Regions from separate parts of the Homo sapiens genome. Here region 1 is linked to region 2. Evidence: fine-mapped expression QTL. Tissue or cell type: monocytes after interferon gamma. Region 2 holds a variant in brackets; the other region holds the start of a gene. All regions are shown on one strand. Distances are between the middles of the regions.

Region 1 (8,096 bases), 35 kb before region 2:
ACTGGTTGTTTACACTGTCATGCCCAATTTTGAGTGCCTTTTAAGCCTTTTTTGCATACTCAGAAACCAATCAGCATGCACTCCCCCATTCTGAGCCAATAAAAACCTCAGACTCAGCCACACTTGGGGTCTACACACCATGGCGGGGGGAACTACCCGACTTTGAGAGGGTCCCCTCTTCGCTGAGAGCTGTTTGTTAGCTCAATAAAACTCTTCACCCTGCTCACCCACTGGCTGTCAGCATAACCTCATTCTTCTTGGATGTGGGACAAGAACTCTGGAGGGTCTACCACTGGTAGGAAAAAGGCTGTAACACTGTAGCCCTCCACCCACCCCCAGAACCTGCCCAGGCAAGAGGAAATAGCAGTGGGCTGGGCCAGCCCTGAAGCTGAGGACCCAAGGGGGGCAGCGGGATTGAAAGAGCTGTAACATGACACAAATGGCGGAATGGGTGGGGTGTCTCCTGCACCGAGCCCAGGCCAAGGGAGGCCTGAACAGGGGTGCTGCTGGCCATGGAGGTCTCTGGCTGACTAAGGGGCACTGAAAAATCCTGTGTCATAAGTGGTTCTGAGACCAGAAAGTTTGAGAATTGCTGGACTAAGGAATATAAATTTTAAAACCAAGACTCACCAGGCACGGTGGCTCATGCCTGTAATCCCAACACTTTGGGAGGCCGAGATGGGTGGATCACAAGGTCAGGTGTTCAAGACCAGCCTGGACAACATAGTGAAACCCCGTCTCTGCTAAAAACACAAAAAAAATTAGCCGGGCTTAGTGGCGGGCACCTGTAATCCCAGCTACTTGGGAGGCTGAGGCAGGAGAATCACTTGAACCCAGGAGGTGGAGGTTGCAGTCAGCCGAGATCACACCACTGCACCCCAGCCTGGGCAACAAGAGTGAAACTCTGTTTCAAACAAAAACAAAAAGAAACAGAAAACAACCAAGACTCTTATCAGTCCACATGACAATACTCTGTGAATTCTCACAATGGCTGTAGGAGGTGGGTGCGTTATCACCCCCATTTATCAGGTGAAGACACTGAGGCACAGAGAGGGGATGTAATTGCTCATTCACACAGCTGGCAATTGACACAGCAGGGACTTGAACCCAAGCATCTAACCCCAAGCTTGTGCACTTCCTTGGGGACAATTTGGCTACATGTTTAAAAAGCTTTTAAAAATATTTGCCTCCTTTGACCTCTTTTAAGACTTTCAAGAAATCTTTGGCTGGGTGCGGTGGCTCACACCTGTAATCCCAGCACTTTGGGAGGCTGAGGCGGGTGGATCACGAGGTCAGGAGTTCAAGACCAGCCTGGCCAAGATGGTGAAACTCCGTCTCTACTAAAAATACAAAAAAATTAGCTGGGTGCGGTGGCAGGCGCCTGTAATCTCAGCTACTTGGGAGGCTGAGGCAGGAGAACCACTTGAACCCAGGAGGCGGAGGTTGCAGTGAGCTGAGATCGTGCTACTGCACTCCGGTCTTGCCAACAGAGTGAGACTCTGTCTCAAAAAAAAAAAATCTTTAATATCTCGACAGGCAAGGTGGCTCACATGTCTAATCCCAGCACTTTTGGAGGCCGAGGTGGGCAGATCACCGGAGGTAACTCCGGTTTGATACCAGCCTGGCCAACATGGTGAAATCCCATCTCTACAAAAATATAAAAATTAAGCATGATTACCGGTGCCTGTAATCTCAGCTACTTGGGAGGCTGAGGCGGGAAAATCGCTTGAACCCGGGAGGCGGAGGTTGCAATAAGCAGAGATCACGCCACTGCACTCCAGCCTGGGCGACAGAGCGAGACTCCATCTCAAAAAAAAAAAAAAAAAATCTTTGACATCAGAGATTCATATACAAAGATATTTATAACATCATCAAGTTAAAAACAACCAGTAGTCTGTGAATGATTAATAGATAACAGCAAATAAATGCACAAAGGTAGCTGGGCACGGTGGCTCACTCTTGTAATCCCAGCACTTTAGGAAGCCGAGGCGGGTGGATCACCTGAGGTCAGAAGTTCAATACCAGCCTGGCCAACATGGTGAAACCCGTCTCTACTAAAAGTACAAAAATTAGCCGGGCGTGGTGGCGGGCGCCCGTAATCCCGGCTACTCAGTAGGCTGAGGCATGAGAATTGCTTGAACCCGGGAGGCAGAGGTTGCAGCGAGCCGAGATCACGCCACTGCACTCCAGCCTGAGCGACAGAGCGCAATTCTCGTTTCTAAAAAAAAAAAAAAAGCACAAAGGCCTTGAATGACACCAGACAATGCCCGGGGAGATAGGATAGTGGGATGGGGGCAGCGGGAGCCTTGGTAGCGGAGTCCACGGTGGGATTCAGAGACCTGCAGAGCCAGGGCCGGGAGGGGCAGGGCAGAGGAAGGGCGTGCAGCGACGCTGGCATTCGGACGTGAGAAGGCGGAAGGTGCGGGAGGCCCCAGAGGATCTCGACCTGGACCCTGGAGCCCTGGGGCGGTGGCACATTCAGCGGCCGCTTTAGAGCGAGGGGGGCGGGGCGCGGAGCCAGGCTTAGGGGGACCAAGGTGGCCGGGGTAGTGGGGGCGACCCCGCGGGGCTGGGAGAGCCGCGGTGAGCCTAGGGGGCTGTGCGGGGGCCGCTCTGGACGCTGCAGCCAAGTGTCCCAGGAAAGCAGCGCCCAGGGCCCCACAGCTCCCTGTGCCCGGACCCAGCCCAGTCCCACTGCAGTGGGTGGCTGGAGGATGGCGAGTGTCCCGGGCACCCCTTGGGCCGGGTGAACGTGGTTGGGCACGGAGAGGGCGGGGCCCGTGGGCACGGGTGGGCCCAATGGGCCAGGGCTGGACCAATAACGAGAAAGGATGAATGGACAGGGGCTGAACTACAGAGAGAGGGCGGGACTATTGGGCGAGGGCTGGACCAATGGGCAGGGGCTAAACTAATAGACGAGGGCTGGACCAATGGCGCGGATGAGGCTGCTGCGTCGTCAAGGATGCAGAGCTTAAAGCAAGGCAGTGGCTTCCATGAGCCTAAACACCTTCCCTCCGCACGCTCGGTATCGCGACGGGGGAGAGCAAAACCTTTAAACAAATGCTCCAGTTTTCCCCGCAGAGAGCCGGAGTCAAATCCGTGAGGAAGCCCGGGGGTCGCAGTGAAGCCCAACCCACTGGTGCTGGGATAACCTCGCCCGCAACCCGGATCCAGGCCGCAGGTCCCCCGAGGCTCCGCCCCTGACGGCGACACTCAATCCCGGGTGTCCCCGCCCCCTTACTGAATTTTGGCCCCGCCTCCGCCCTCCGATTGGCCGGACGCCAGCTCTACGCCGCACGGGCAAGACGCGGAGGAGCGGCCCCAGCCAGAAGACAGGGCACCCGCGGCCTTGCTGCGCATGCTCGCGCTGTGACCCCGGCTTGAGGTAACAGCGCGAGCTGAGGCTGGGGCCCTTGGCGCGGAGGCTGAGGGACCCGCCGCGGCGCTGTCGCCGGAGAGGGAGGGCACCGCTGTCGTCGGTGAGGACGGGCCCTGGCGGGCGGGGAGGGTCCTGCGTCCTCGGCATGGACGAGTCCCCGGCCCGGCTCTCTCGGGGGTCCCGAGGGCTGCGGGTGCTGAGGAGGGGTCCGCGTCCTGGTGCTCAGGCCGCCTCCTGTGGGGTCTCCCGCGATTCCCTCTTTGCCTCTCGCCCCTCCTTCCCCACCCCCTCCAGTCCCTTGTCCAAAGCCTCAACACCCCCACACGAAGGAGGTCCGCACTCGCCCGCCGGTCCCTGGCCGTGTCCGCCGCGCCCAGCGCTGCCTTCCCGGCACCCCCCAACCCCCGCCGGCCTCGTCCCACGGTTGCAGCTCGGGAGGTCCCTGCAGGGACGGCAGCGAGTTGGAGGCGTGAGATACTGGGGCGGGGGAGACACTCGGGGCCTCAGGGTGTGGGTATTCTTGAGAGAGGAGAGAGCCGGGGAGCTGGGACCATTTGGGCGCAGCCCAGCCCGCGTTTGATGCCAATTGCATTGGGTAAAGGAGTGAAATAAAGATTCTGAGCCCTGGTGATTAGGGGAAGGAGCTGCCATGGCTGAAATTGCCATGGTGGGGAAGCTCCGCGCTGCACACCTTAGAGTAGCAGTTCTTGGCCTTCTTGGGGCAGGGGTCACTGCCGGTTTTTTAAATCTCCCTGTGAGGACGTGTACTGCACACCTTAGTGTCCCGTCATCCTGTCGGGGTCAATAACAGCCCCGCTGTGGACTGCGTGGAGCAGTAATTATTGGGGAGCAGCTGTCCATATCGTCTGGGAACTTTTGCGATGACTTCACCCTTGCCTGTCATCTATTAACAGCCCCTGATAAATTCACCACTATTTCCGTTACGCAGATGAAACCTGCTGGGAGGGTAAGGGATTTGTCCTCGCGGCTGAGGATGCCGGTGCTGGTGGACATTAGTGATGTTTCTCCCCCGTGCGTATGAAGATGATTCTGTGGGTCCACCATGAGGCACCAGGCAGGGGTCCTGTCGTCCAGAACATCGTCAGTGAGGGATTGAACCTTGTATTAGTTTCCTGTTGCTGTCCTAACAAATAAGGTGGCTTAAAGCAACACAGGCCGGGCGCGGTGGTTCACGCCTGTAATCCTAGCACTTTGGGAGGCCGAGGCAGGCAGATCACAAGGTCAGGAGATAGAGACCATTCTGACTAACATGGTGAAACCCCGTCTCTACTAAAAAAAAAAAAAAAAAAATACAAAAATTAGTCGGGGCCGGCGCGGTGGCTCACGCCTGTAATCCCAGCACTTTGGGAGGCCAAGGAGGGTGGATCACCTGAGGTCGGGAGTTCGAGACCAGCCTGACCAACATGGAGAAACCCCGTCTCAACTAAAAATACAAAATTAGCCGGGTGTGGTGGTGCACGCTTGTAATCCCAGCTACTTGGGAGGCTGAGACAGGAGAAAGGCTTGAACCCGGGAGGCAGAGGTTGCAGTGACCCAAGGTCGCGCCACTGCACTCCAGCCTGGCCGACAAGAGCGATACTCCGTCTAAAAAACAAAAACAAAAAAAAAACTCCGGGTGATTCTTAGGGATAGTGACATTGGGGAACTGCTGTTCATATGTTCATAGACTCAATTTACCTTTTTCTGAATATTTAACAACTTTATTGAGATAATTCACATACCGTGCAATTTACCCATTTAAAGTGTACATTTCGGCCGGGCGCGGTGGCTCACGCCTGTTATCCCAGCACTTTGGGAGGCCAAGGAGGGCGGATCACGAGGTCAGGAGATCGAGACCATCCTGGCTAACACGGTGAAACCCCGTCTCTACTAAAAATACAAAAAATTAGCCAGGCGTGGTGGCAGGCGCCTGTAGTCCCAGCTACTCCGGAGGCTGAGGCAGGAGAATGGCGTGAACCCGGGAGGCGGAGCTTGCAGTGAGATCACGCCACTGCACTCCAGCCTGGGCGACAGAGCGAGACTCCGTCTCAAAAAAACAAAACAAAACAAAAAAAAAAATATACAGTTCAGTGGCTTTAGTGTGATCACAAAGTTGTGCAACCCTCATGAAAATTCCTTTTAGGACATTTTCATCACCCCATAAAGCACATACCCACTAGTAGTCAATTCTCATTCTCCCCTTCCCCACCCCAATCCCGAGATAACCACAAATCTACGTTCTGTCTCCATAGATTTTCCTACTCTGTAGATTCTCTAGACTCTAAGTAATTTCATGTAAATGGAATCATATAATATGTGGTCTTTTGGGTCTGGCTTCTTTTACCGAGCATAATTTCTTCAAGGTTCATTCATGTTGTAGCATAGATTTTTTTTACTGCCAAATAATATTCCATTTTATACATGCACCACATTGTACTTATTCATTCATCCATTGATGGATATTTGGGCTGTTTTGAATATCCATCGAAACGTTTTGGCTTTCATGAATAATGCAACTGTAACATTCATGTACACATTTTTATGTGGACATGTGTTTTCCTTTCTTCCAGGCATATAGCTAGTAGTGGAATTGCTGGGTCATAGGGTAACTCTACATTTAACCTTTTGAGGAACTGCCAGGCTGGTTTCCAAAAATGGCTGCACCATTTTACATTCCCCTCAGCAGTGTATGAGGGTTCCAGTTTCTCCTCATCCTCACCAGCACTTGCTATTATCTGTTTTTTGTTTGTTTTATTATGTCCATCCTGGTGGTGTGAAGTGATATCTCATTGTGGTTTTGATTTGCATTTCCCTGGTGACTAATGATGTTGAGCATCTTCTCATATATTAGCCATTTGTATATCTTCTTTAGAGAAAAGCCTGTTTGGAGCCTTTGCCCATTATTATTATTATTGTTATTATTTTTTTTTTTTAGACGGAGTACCACTTTGATGCCCAGGCTGCAGTGCAGTGTAGTGCAGTGGCGCCACCTCGGCTCACTGAAATCTCCACCTCCCGGGTTCAAGCAATTCTCATGCTGCGCAGCCTCCTGAGTAGCTGGGATTACAGGCATGTGCCACCATGCCACCAATCCAAAAAAGAAAATAATTTTTGTATTTTTAGTAGAGACAGGGTTTCACTATGTTGTCTAGGCTGATCTCGAACTCCTGACCTCAGGTGATCCTCCTGCCTCAGCCTCCCTAAGTGCTGGGATTACAGGCATGAGCCACCACGCCCTGCCCCTTTGTCCTTTTTTTTTTTTTTTTTTTTTTTGAGGCGGATTTTGCTCTTGTTGTCCCGGCTGGAGTGCACTGGTGCAATCTCAGCTTACCGCAACCTCCGCCTCCTGGGTTCAAGCAATTCTCCTGTCTCAGCCTCCTGAGTAGCTGGGATTACAGGCATGTGCCACCAAGCTTGGCTAATTTTGTATTTTTAGTAGAGACAGGGTTTCTCCATGTTGGTCAGGCTGGTCTCGAACTCCCGACCTCAGATGATCCACCTGCCTCGGCCTCCCAAAGTGCTGGGATTACAGGTGTGAGCCACCATGCCCAGCCGCCCATTTTTAAATTGTTTGTTTGTTTGCTTGTTTATTACTGAGTTGTAATAGTTCTTTATAAATTCCAGATACAAGTCCCTTATCAGATATATGATTTGCAAACATTTTTTCCCATTCTATGGGTTATCTCTTAACTTTCAAAAGTTTTATGGCTAAAACACAAAACTCTTAAACTTAGTTGAAGTCCAGTTTATTTCTTCATTGGTTGTTTGTGCCTTTCATTATATTGAAGAAAGCTTTGCCTAATCTAAGGTTATGAGAATTTAGTTTTTCTTTTAAAAAAAAGTTTTATTACTGTAGCTCTTGTAATAAACTATAATTTTTTGTTTTTTTGTTGTTTTGAGACAGGATCTCACTCTGTTACCCAAGCTGGAGTGCAGTGGTGCAATCTCGGCTCACTGCAACCTCCGCCCCACTGGCTTAAGCAATCCTTCCACCTCAGCTTCCCAAGTAGCTGGGACCACGGGTGCACACCACCATGCCCGGCTTTCTTTTTTTTTTTTTTTTTTTGTATTTTTAGTAGAGATGAGGTCTCGCCATGTTGCCCAGGCTAGACCTGAACTCCCGAGCTGAAGAGATCTGCCCACCTCAGCCTCCCAAAGTGCTAGGTTTATAGGCATGAGCCACCATGCCTAGCCATATAATTTATTTAGAGTTAATTTTTGTATATGCTGTGAGGAAAGCATACAACTTCATTCTTTTGTATTGGATATTCAGTGGTCCTAGCATTTAATGTTTGTTTTTATTATTATTATTATTATTTTTTGAGACAGAGTCTTGCTCTGTCACCCAGGCTGAGGTACAGCAGCACAATCACAGCTTACTGCAGCCTTGACCTCCCAGGCTCAAGCAACGCTCCCACCTCAGCCTCCCAAGTTGCTGGAACTACATATGTGCCCCACCACCCTGGTTAATAATATTTTTTTTAGAGATGAGATCTCACTATGTTGCCTAGGCTGGTCTGGAACTCCTGGGTTCAAGCGATCCTCCTACATCACCCTCCCAAAGTACTGGAATTACAAGCATGAGCCACCACGCCTGGCCCAACATTTGTCGTTAAGACTATTTTCCCTCCACAGAACTGTCTTGCCACCTTTGCTGAAAATCAGTTCACCATATATATAAGAGTGTATTTCTGGACTCTCAGTTCTATTCTGTTGA
Region 2 (8,099 bases):
GCACACCTGTAATCCCAGCTACTCAGGAGCCTGAGGAGCAGAATCGCTTGAACCTGGTTCAAGGATTCAGCGGAGGTTGCAGTGAGACAGGATCGAGCCACTGCACTCCAGCCTGGGCGACAGAGTGAGACTCTGTCTCAAAAAAAAAAAAAAAAAAAGAAATTTGTACTGAATGAAGATTGAACATTACAAAAGAAACACATTAGGGCCCCTGTATCTACTGTAAAACAATGGGTATCTACTGTAAAAAAAAAAAGCACTTAAACTAGAGTAACAAAAGTTTCTAATTTTTATTAAATGAGATATTTATTGAATTTATTAAATAATATAAATGTATTAAAATATACTCATTTTTATTACATGCACTGAAATTTTTTTTTTTTTTCCTGAGACAGTCTCATTTTGTTGCCTAGGCTGGAGTGCATTGGTGTGATCTTGGCTCACTGCAACCTCCATCTCCCCGGTAGGTTCAGTGAGTTCTGCCTCAGCCTCCTGAGCAGCTGGGATTACAGGCATGCACCACGACCGACTAATTTTTTTGTATTTTTAGTAGAGACAGGGTTTTACCGTGTTGGCCAGGCGGCAAACTGGGATTACAGGCCTGTGCTACCAAGCCCAGCTAATTGTTGTATTTTTAGTAGAGACAGGGTTTCACCATGTTGGCCAGGCCGGTCTCAAACTCCTGAGCTCCACCTTACTGGCTAACGGTAAGTAAAATCTTTAACATGTGTTTGCTTTATATGAGTATAAAAGAATTGTATTTCCTTTGTTTTGGTCTAGGGCACTGTTTTTGAAACTGCTTAGTCATTGGTCCTAAAATCATTAGGTTCCAGTCAGCAATTTTTAAAATTACATGGGCTGGTCGCAGTGGTTCACGCCTGTAATCCCAGCACTTTGAGAGGCCAAGGTGGGCGGATCACGGGAGGCAGAGGCACCAGAATGGCTTGAGCCTGGGAATCGGAGGTTGCAGTTAGCTGAGATCTAGCCACTGCTCCCCAGCCTGGGAGACAGAGCAAGACTCTGTGTCGAGAGAAAAAAAAAAAAAAGAGAGAATCCAAAGAAGAATCTACAAGATTCTAGATCAGGAATATTGAAATGAATGTGCAAATGGAGGCAAAACTGGCCTCTTCTACAGTGGCCAAGGAAACATATTTTTGATTATAAGGCTGATTTCATCATATTTGGCCTGATTATGTAGTGCAGCAATAGTACTGATTCACCAGATAAGCCTACCTGAGTTTGCCTGCCTGGAAGTCTCCATAAGGAAACTTAGACTTTTTAAAGTCTGTTGTTTTGGCCAGGTGCCGTGGCTCACACCTGTAATCCCAGCATTTTGGGAGGCAAAGACGGGCTGATCACTTGAGGTCAGAAGTTCGAGACCAGCCTGGCCAACATGATGAAACCTCATCTCTACTAAAAACAAAAGTTAGCTGGGCGTGTTGGTGCGTGCCTGTAATCCTAGCTACTCAGGAAGCTGAGTCAGGATAATTAACCTAGGAGGCAGAAGTTGCAGTGAGCTGAGATCATGCCACTGTACTCCAGCCTGGGCAACAGAGTGGGACTCCATCTCAAAACAAAAATACAGGCCGGGTGTGGTGGCTCACGCCTGTAATCCCAGCACTTTGGGAAGCTGAGGCAGGCGGATCACGAAGTCAGGAGATAGAGACCATCCTGGCTAACATGGTGAAACCCCGTCTCTACTAACAAAATACAAAAAATTATCCAGGCCTGGTGGCAGGTGCCTGTAGTCTCAGCTACTCTGGAGGCTGAGGCCGGAGAATGGCGTGAACCCAGGAGACAGAGCTTGCAGAGAGCCGAGATCGCACCACTGCACTCCAGCCTGGGTGACAGAGCGAGACTCCATCTCAAAAAAACAAAACAAAACAAAAAATAAAAAAAAGAAAAAAGAAATTTAAAAATTCGTTGTTTGATATCCTGAGACACAGAAGGCAAGTCCAGGATGCTTTCTCCATCAGATTTTACCTGTAGTACTTAAAATTTGGGCAAATTCCTCTCTTCTTGAGGTTCCCCAAAATACCCCTAAGGTTCCTGAAACTTGTTAAATTGCTAATACTTTCAAAAACGAGGAAATCGGCCAGGCATGGTGGCTCACTCCTGTAATCCCAGCTCTTTGGGAGGCCGAGGGGGGTGGATCATGAGGTCAGGAGTTCGAGATTAGCCTGGACAACATGGTGAAACCCCATCTCTAGTAAAAAAAAAAAAAAAAATAACAAAAATTAGCCAGGCGTGGTAGCGCGCACCTGTAATCCCAGCTACTTGGGAGGCTGAGGCAGGAGAATCGCTTGAAACCAGAAGGCAGAAGTTGCAGTGAGCCGAGATCATGCCACTGCACTCCAGCCCAGGTGAAAGAGCGAAACTCTGTCTCAAAAATAAAAAAAAGTAAAAAAAATTTTTAAAAAGCCATGACTTTCCCAATAATACAAAGTAAGCTTGTTAATAATTTTTTTTTTTTTTTTGAGATGGAGTTTTGCTCTTGTCACCCAGGCTGGAGTGCAATGGTGGGATCTCTGCTCACTGCAACTTCCACCTCCCGGGTACAAGCGATTCTCCTGCCTCAGCCTCCCGAGTAGCTGGGATTACAGGCGCCCACCACGACGCCCAGCTAATTTTGTATTTTTAGTAGAGACGGGGTTTTGCCATGTTGGTCAGGCTGGTTTCGAACTCCTGACCTCAGGTGATCCGCCCATCTCAGCCTCCCAAAGTGCTGGGATTACAGGTGTGAGCCACCATGCCCGGCCGTTAATGATTTTCTGTGACATTAATGAGGAAACCTGTATGACATTAAAGAGTAAATGAGATGATGTAGATAAAATACTTCAGGTATTTTAGTGCCCAGCACAAAGCAAACCTCAGGTGTTGCTTAGGTTCGTCGCTTAGCTGCAGTCTTCTGTTTCCCAAGGTCATCTATTCTAGTGTTTGTCAAAGTCTAGTTCACAGTCTATCAGTATCAGGAGGATTTGTGAAAAATCTAGATTCTTGTTCCTCCCTCTTCCTTTGGCCTCCCTCTTCCCCTCCCCCGATCCTCTCCCCACCCCCCAAAATCTGGAGTCTTTTCTTCCCCCTCGAGATGGAGTCTCACTGTTGCCCAGGCTGGAGTACAGTGGCACGATCTTGGCTCACTGTGCAACCTCCACTTCCTGGGTTCAAGCAATTCTCCCTGCCTCAGCCTCCTGAGTAGCTGGGATTACAGGCGCCCGCCACCATGCCCAGGTAATTTTTGTATTTTTTGGAAGAGATGGGGTTTTGCCATGTTGGCCGGGCTTGTCTTGAACTCCTGACCTCAAGTGATCCACCCACCTCGGCCTCCCAAAGTGCTGGAATTAGAGGTATGTGCCACTGTGCCTGGCCTTGGATTCCTTTTTTTTTTTTTTTTTTTTGAGACAGTGTCGCTCTGTCGCCCAGGCTGGAGTGCAGTGGGGCAATCTCGGCTCACTGCAAGCTCCGCCTCCCAGGCTCACACCATTCTCCTGCCTCAGCCTCCCGAGTAGCTGGGACTACAGGCGGCCGCCACCGCGCCCAGCTAATTTTTTGTATTTTTAGTAGAGACGGGGTTTCACCGTGTTAGCCAGGATGGTCTCGATCTCCTGACCTCGTGATCCGCCTGCCTTGGCCTTCTAAAGTGCTGGGATTACAGGCGTGAGCCACCGCGCCAGGCTTTTTTTTTTTTGAGAGGGAGTTTTGCTCTTGTTGCCCAGGCTGGAGTGCAATGGCAGGATCTTGGCTCACTGCAACCTCCACCTCCCGGTTTCGAGTGACTCTTCTGCCTCAGCCTCCTGAATAGCTGGGATTACAGGCATGCACCAACATGACCATCTAATTTTTGTATTTTCAGTAGAGACGGGGTTTCTCCATTTTAGTCAGGCTGGTCTCAAACTCCCGACCTCAGGTGATCCGCCTGCCTCGGCCTCCCAAAGTGCTGGGATTAGAGGCGTGAACCACCGTGCCTGGCCTTAAATGTTTTTAAGTTATAAACATGTAAAATAAAATTCGCCAATGAATAACAAATATGACCAGAATAGAAAGGAAATAGTAGGAAAGACCAGTGGATTGAGGGCTAGAACGTAGTGTCTTGTCCAAGTAATATTTTGGTCTTTTTTGGAAACAAAAACTTGTTTAGAAAGATAGTCTTTACTGAATTTGTTAATTGGATTTTGCTTTCTTTTTTTTTCTTTTTTGAGGCAGAGTCTCCCTCTTTTGCCCAGGCTGGAGTGCAGTGGCATGATCTCGGCTCACTGCAACCTCCAAAGCAATTCTTCTGCCTCCACCTCCCAAGTAGCTGGGATTACAG[G/A]TGCTCACCACCACTCCTGATTAATCTTTTGTGTTTTAGTAGATGTTATCCAAGGTGGTCTCGATCTCCTGACGTTGTGATCCACCCACCTCAGCCTCCCAAAGTGCTGGGATTACAGGCGTGAGCCACCACACCCAGCTGCTCTCTGATATATGCGTGTATATTTATTCATTTGTTTTAATTTTTTGTTTCTTTTTTTTTTTTTGAGACGGAGTCTTGCTTTGTCTCCCAGGCTGGAGTACAGTGGTATGGTCTCGGCTCACTGCAACCTCTGCCCCCTGGGTTCAAGCGATTCTCCTGCCTCAGCCTCCCGAGTAGTTGGGATTACAGGCATGCGCCACCACACCCAGCTAATTTTTGTATTTTTAGTAGAGACGGGGTTTCACCATGTTTGCCAGGATGGTTTCGATCTCTTGACCTCGTGATCCGCCTGCCTTGGCCTGCCGAAGTGCTGGGATTACAGGCGTGAGCCACCGCGTCTGGCCTATTTTTTGTTTCTTGAGATGGGGTCATGTGATGTTGCCCAGATTGGCTTCAAACTCCTGGGCTCAAGCCATTTTCCTGCCACAACCTCCCAAGTGGCTGGGACTACACATACGCACCACCATGCCCAGCTCGAAGTACTACTTTTTGTAAATATAACATTTTGGAAATCCTCTTGAATTTTTTTTCCAACTTGGAAAAATTTCCAAATTCTTGTTTGAAAACATTGCCACCCGTGTAATTTTACCAAGGCAATAGGAACATTTCAGGAGCAACACCACCATCTTGTGGCCATATGGAGTATTGCTGCTGAGGATTTAAATTTGCGCTTCCCCCGTGACGGGTGGTCCTGCCTTATGTAATGGTCCTTTGGAAAGACTCCAGGTGGCCTCTGGTGGGGGCTTCCTGCTCTCGAGGGGGATACAGTAGCAGACATGATTGAACGCAGTGTGTGCTACAGAAAAGCAAGCGCCTTAAAGGCATTAGTTCAACAATGGAAGTAGTTGTGCATTTGAGTGGCAGGATTAGGGGTCATTTTAGTATTATAGTCTTAACATTCTGAAATAGTTTCTATATATTTTTAGAATATGATATTAGAACTTAGAAAATTTCACAACATATAATGCATGCCACCCCTTCTTTGATGAGTAAACCAAACCCAAGAACAAGAAGCTTCTGATGTTTAGTAGAGCACCTGTAATCCCAGCACTTTAGGAGGCAGGTAGGTAACTAGAGGCCAGGAGTTCGAGACCAGCCTGGCCAAAATGGTGAAACTCCATCTCTACTAAAAATACAAAACAAAATTTAGCCATGTGTGGTTTCAGGTGCCTATAATCCCAGCTACTCAGGAGGCTGAGGCCTGAGAATCGCTTGACCCAGGAGGCGGAGGTTGCAGTGAGCTAAGATTACGCCATTGCACTCCAGCCTGGGTGGCCGTGAGACTCTGTCTTAAAAAAAAAAAAAAACACTTTTCCACCAAGAGACCCTTGGAATCTGAGTCATTCTGACCATTGTTTGTTTGTTTGTTTTTGTTTTTTTGAGATGGAGTTTTGCTCTTGTTGCCCAGGCTGGAGTGCAATAGCGTGAGCTCCTGCCTCAGCCTCCCGAGTAGCTGGGATTGCAGGCATATGCCACCATGCCTGGCTATTTTTGTATTTTTAGTGGAGACGGGGTTTCTCCATGTTGGTCGGGCTGGTCTCAAACTCCCCACCTCAGGTGATCTGCCCACCTTGGCCTCCCGAAGTGCTAGGATTACAGGCGTGAGCCACAACGCCTGGCCTTTTTTTTTTTTTTTTTTTTTGAGACAGTCTCACTCTGTCGCCCAGGCTGGAGTGCAGTGGCGCGATCTCAGCTCACTGCAACCTCTGCCTCCCGGGTTCAAGCGATTCTTCTGCCTCAGCCTTCCGAGTAGCTGGGACTACAGGCGCCCGCCACCACGCCCAGTTAATTTTTTGTGTTTTTAGTAGAGACGGGGTTTCACTGTGTTAGCCCGGATGGTCTCGATCTGCTGACCCCGTGATCTGCCCGCCTCGGCCTCCCAAAGTGCTGGGATTACAGGCGTGAGCCACCATTCCCAGACAGGGATTGTTTTTCAATAACTTTCCTGAGATATAATTTACATAATACCATATGATTTCTCCATCTAAAGTCTACAATTCATTGCTTTTAATATATTCAGAAAGCTGTCCAAGTATCACCACCATCAATTTTAGGACTTTTTAAGTCTACAATTCATTGCTTTTAATATATTCAGAAAGCTGTCCAAGTATCACCACCATCAATTTTAGGACTTTTTTTTTTTTTGCTTCTAAAGCCAGAGGGAGGATGGTTGCTCCCTTTCTCTGGACAGGGAAGCGGGTGAGAAGAGCTTATAGAGGCATCCATCCGGTGCTTGGGAGGCTGAGGTGGGAGGATCGCTTGATCCCAGGAGTTCAAAACCAACCTGGAAATATAGCAAGACCCTGTCATTACCAAAATATTTTTTTTTAATTTAATTAAAAAACCAGGCTGGGCAACCTGGCAAAACCCCGTCTCTACAAAGAATACAGAAATTAGCCGGGCATGGTAGTGTGCGCCTGTGGTCCCAGCTACTCTGGAGGCTGAGGTGGGAAGATGGCTTGAGCCTGGGAGGCAGAGGCTGTAGTGATCACGCCACCACACTCCGGTTTAGGCTGTAGTGAAATCCTGCCACTAAAATAAAAAATAAAAGGTATTCATTCTGGCCGGGTGTGGTGGCTCACACCTGTAATCCCAGCACTTTGGGAGGCCAAGACAGGCAGATCATGAGGTCGGAAGTTCGAGACCATCCTGGCCAATATGGTGAAACCCCATCTCTACTAAAAAATACAAAAATTTGCTAGGTGTGGTGGCGCGCGCCTGTAGTCCCAGCTACTCAGGAGGCTGAGGCGGGAGAATCACTTGAACCCGGGAGGCAGAGGTTGCAATGAACTGAGATCGTGCCACTGCACTCCTGCCTGGGCAACTGGGTGACAGAGTTAAAAAAAAGAATCCATCTTAAATGGGTACATTTTGAATCAGATAAAAATCATATTCTGAATCATGGCGGGATAACTTTAGTTACTAGAAAATCTACCTTGTAGGGAGAAGCTTATTCACTGATAATGTTAGGGAAATGGGGTGTTTTGTGTATAGTTTGTTACAGATGGCTCGTGTGTGTGTGTGTGTGTGTGTGTAGGGTTAAATATACATGACGTAAAATTTACCATATTGGTCATTCATGTAAATTGCATCCTACAACCCTTGGTCTTTGTGAGCAGCTGCTCTCCCTGAGCCTCGATGTTGAAGTGTCCAGGTCAGCGGTTCACATTCATTGTTCATCCGTCACCACCGTCCATCTCCAGAACCTTTTCATCTTCCCCAACGGCTGCTCTGTGCCCATGAAACACTCCCTCCTCATCCTCCTGCCCCTGGCACCCCCATTCTACTTTCTGTCCCCATAAGTTTGACTGCCCTGGGGACCTCATACAAGTGGAATCAGACAGTGTTTGTCCCCTTGTGCCTGGCATGTCGTATGTTGCAGATTTTTTTATGGTGAAAAGATATACATATATTTAGAATTAGCCAGCCGGACTCGGTTTACATGATCTCCATTTTGTTGGCCACACCCAAAGCATCCTGATCAGGAGCCAGTGGAACATGTGCCTTCTTCTCTCCATCAGGCCCAATCAGGGTATTGACCTGGGCCACAACCACCTCACAGAGTTCTTCACAGCCTGTTTGAGCTGGTGCTTGTTGGCTTTAACATCCACAGTGAAGACAAGTGTGTTGTCTTCTGTCTTCTTCATGG

Direction of the effects. Positions count from the first base shown, and alleles are read on the strand shown. Sizes are in standard deviations (SD) of each study's normalised expression.
For the expression in monocytes after interferon gamma of the gene that starts at base 3,328 in region 1, allele G in region 2 goes with a lower level than allele A (moderate effect, 0.47 SD a copy in Fairfax 2014).

Evidence for each region. PIP is the estimated chance that this variant, and not a neighbour inherited with it, causes the effect.
Region 1: it holds the start of FLYWCH2, and the variant in region 2 is fine-mapped to the expression of FLYWCH2 in monocytes after interferon gamma (Fairfax 2014, PIP 0.93).

Annotation. Positions count from the first base shown.
Region 1 is chr16:2,879,888-2,887,983 of GRCh38, forward strand. It overlaps FLYWCH2 (FLYWCH family member 2), which reads left to right and starts at 3,328. Exons shown (of 4, transcript NM_138439.3): 1 at 3,328-3,479. RefSeq lists an enhancer at 2,245-2,745 and silencers at 2,474-2,943, 3,444-3,613, 3,704-3,763.
Region 2 is chr16:2,914,770-2,922,868 of GRCh38, forward strand. The region is part of intron 2 of FLYWCH1 (FLYWCH-type zinc finger 1); the gene reads left to right. It also overlaps the pseudogene RPL23AP86. Among named protein-coding and RNA genes, the nearest start is that of FLYWCH1, 6.9 kb to the left of the region's middle. The variant G/A (reference allele first, on the strand shown) is at 4,310.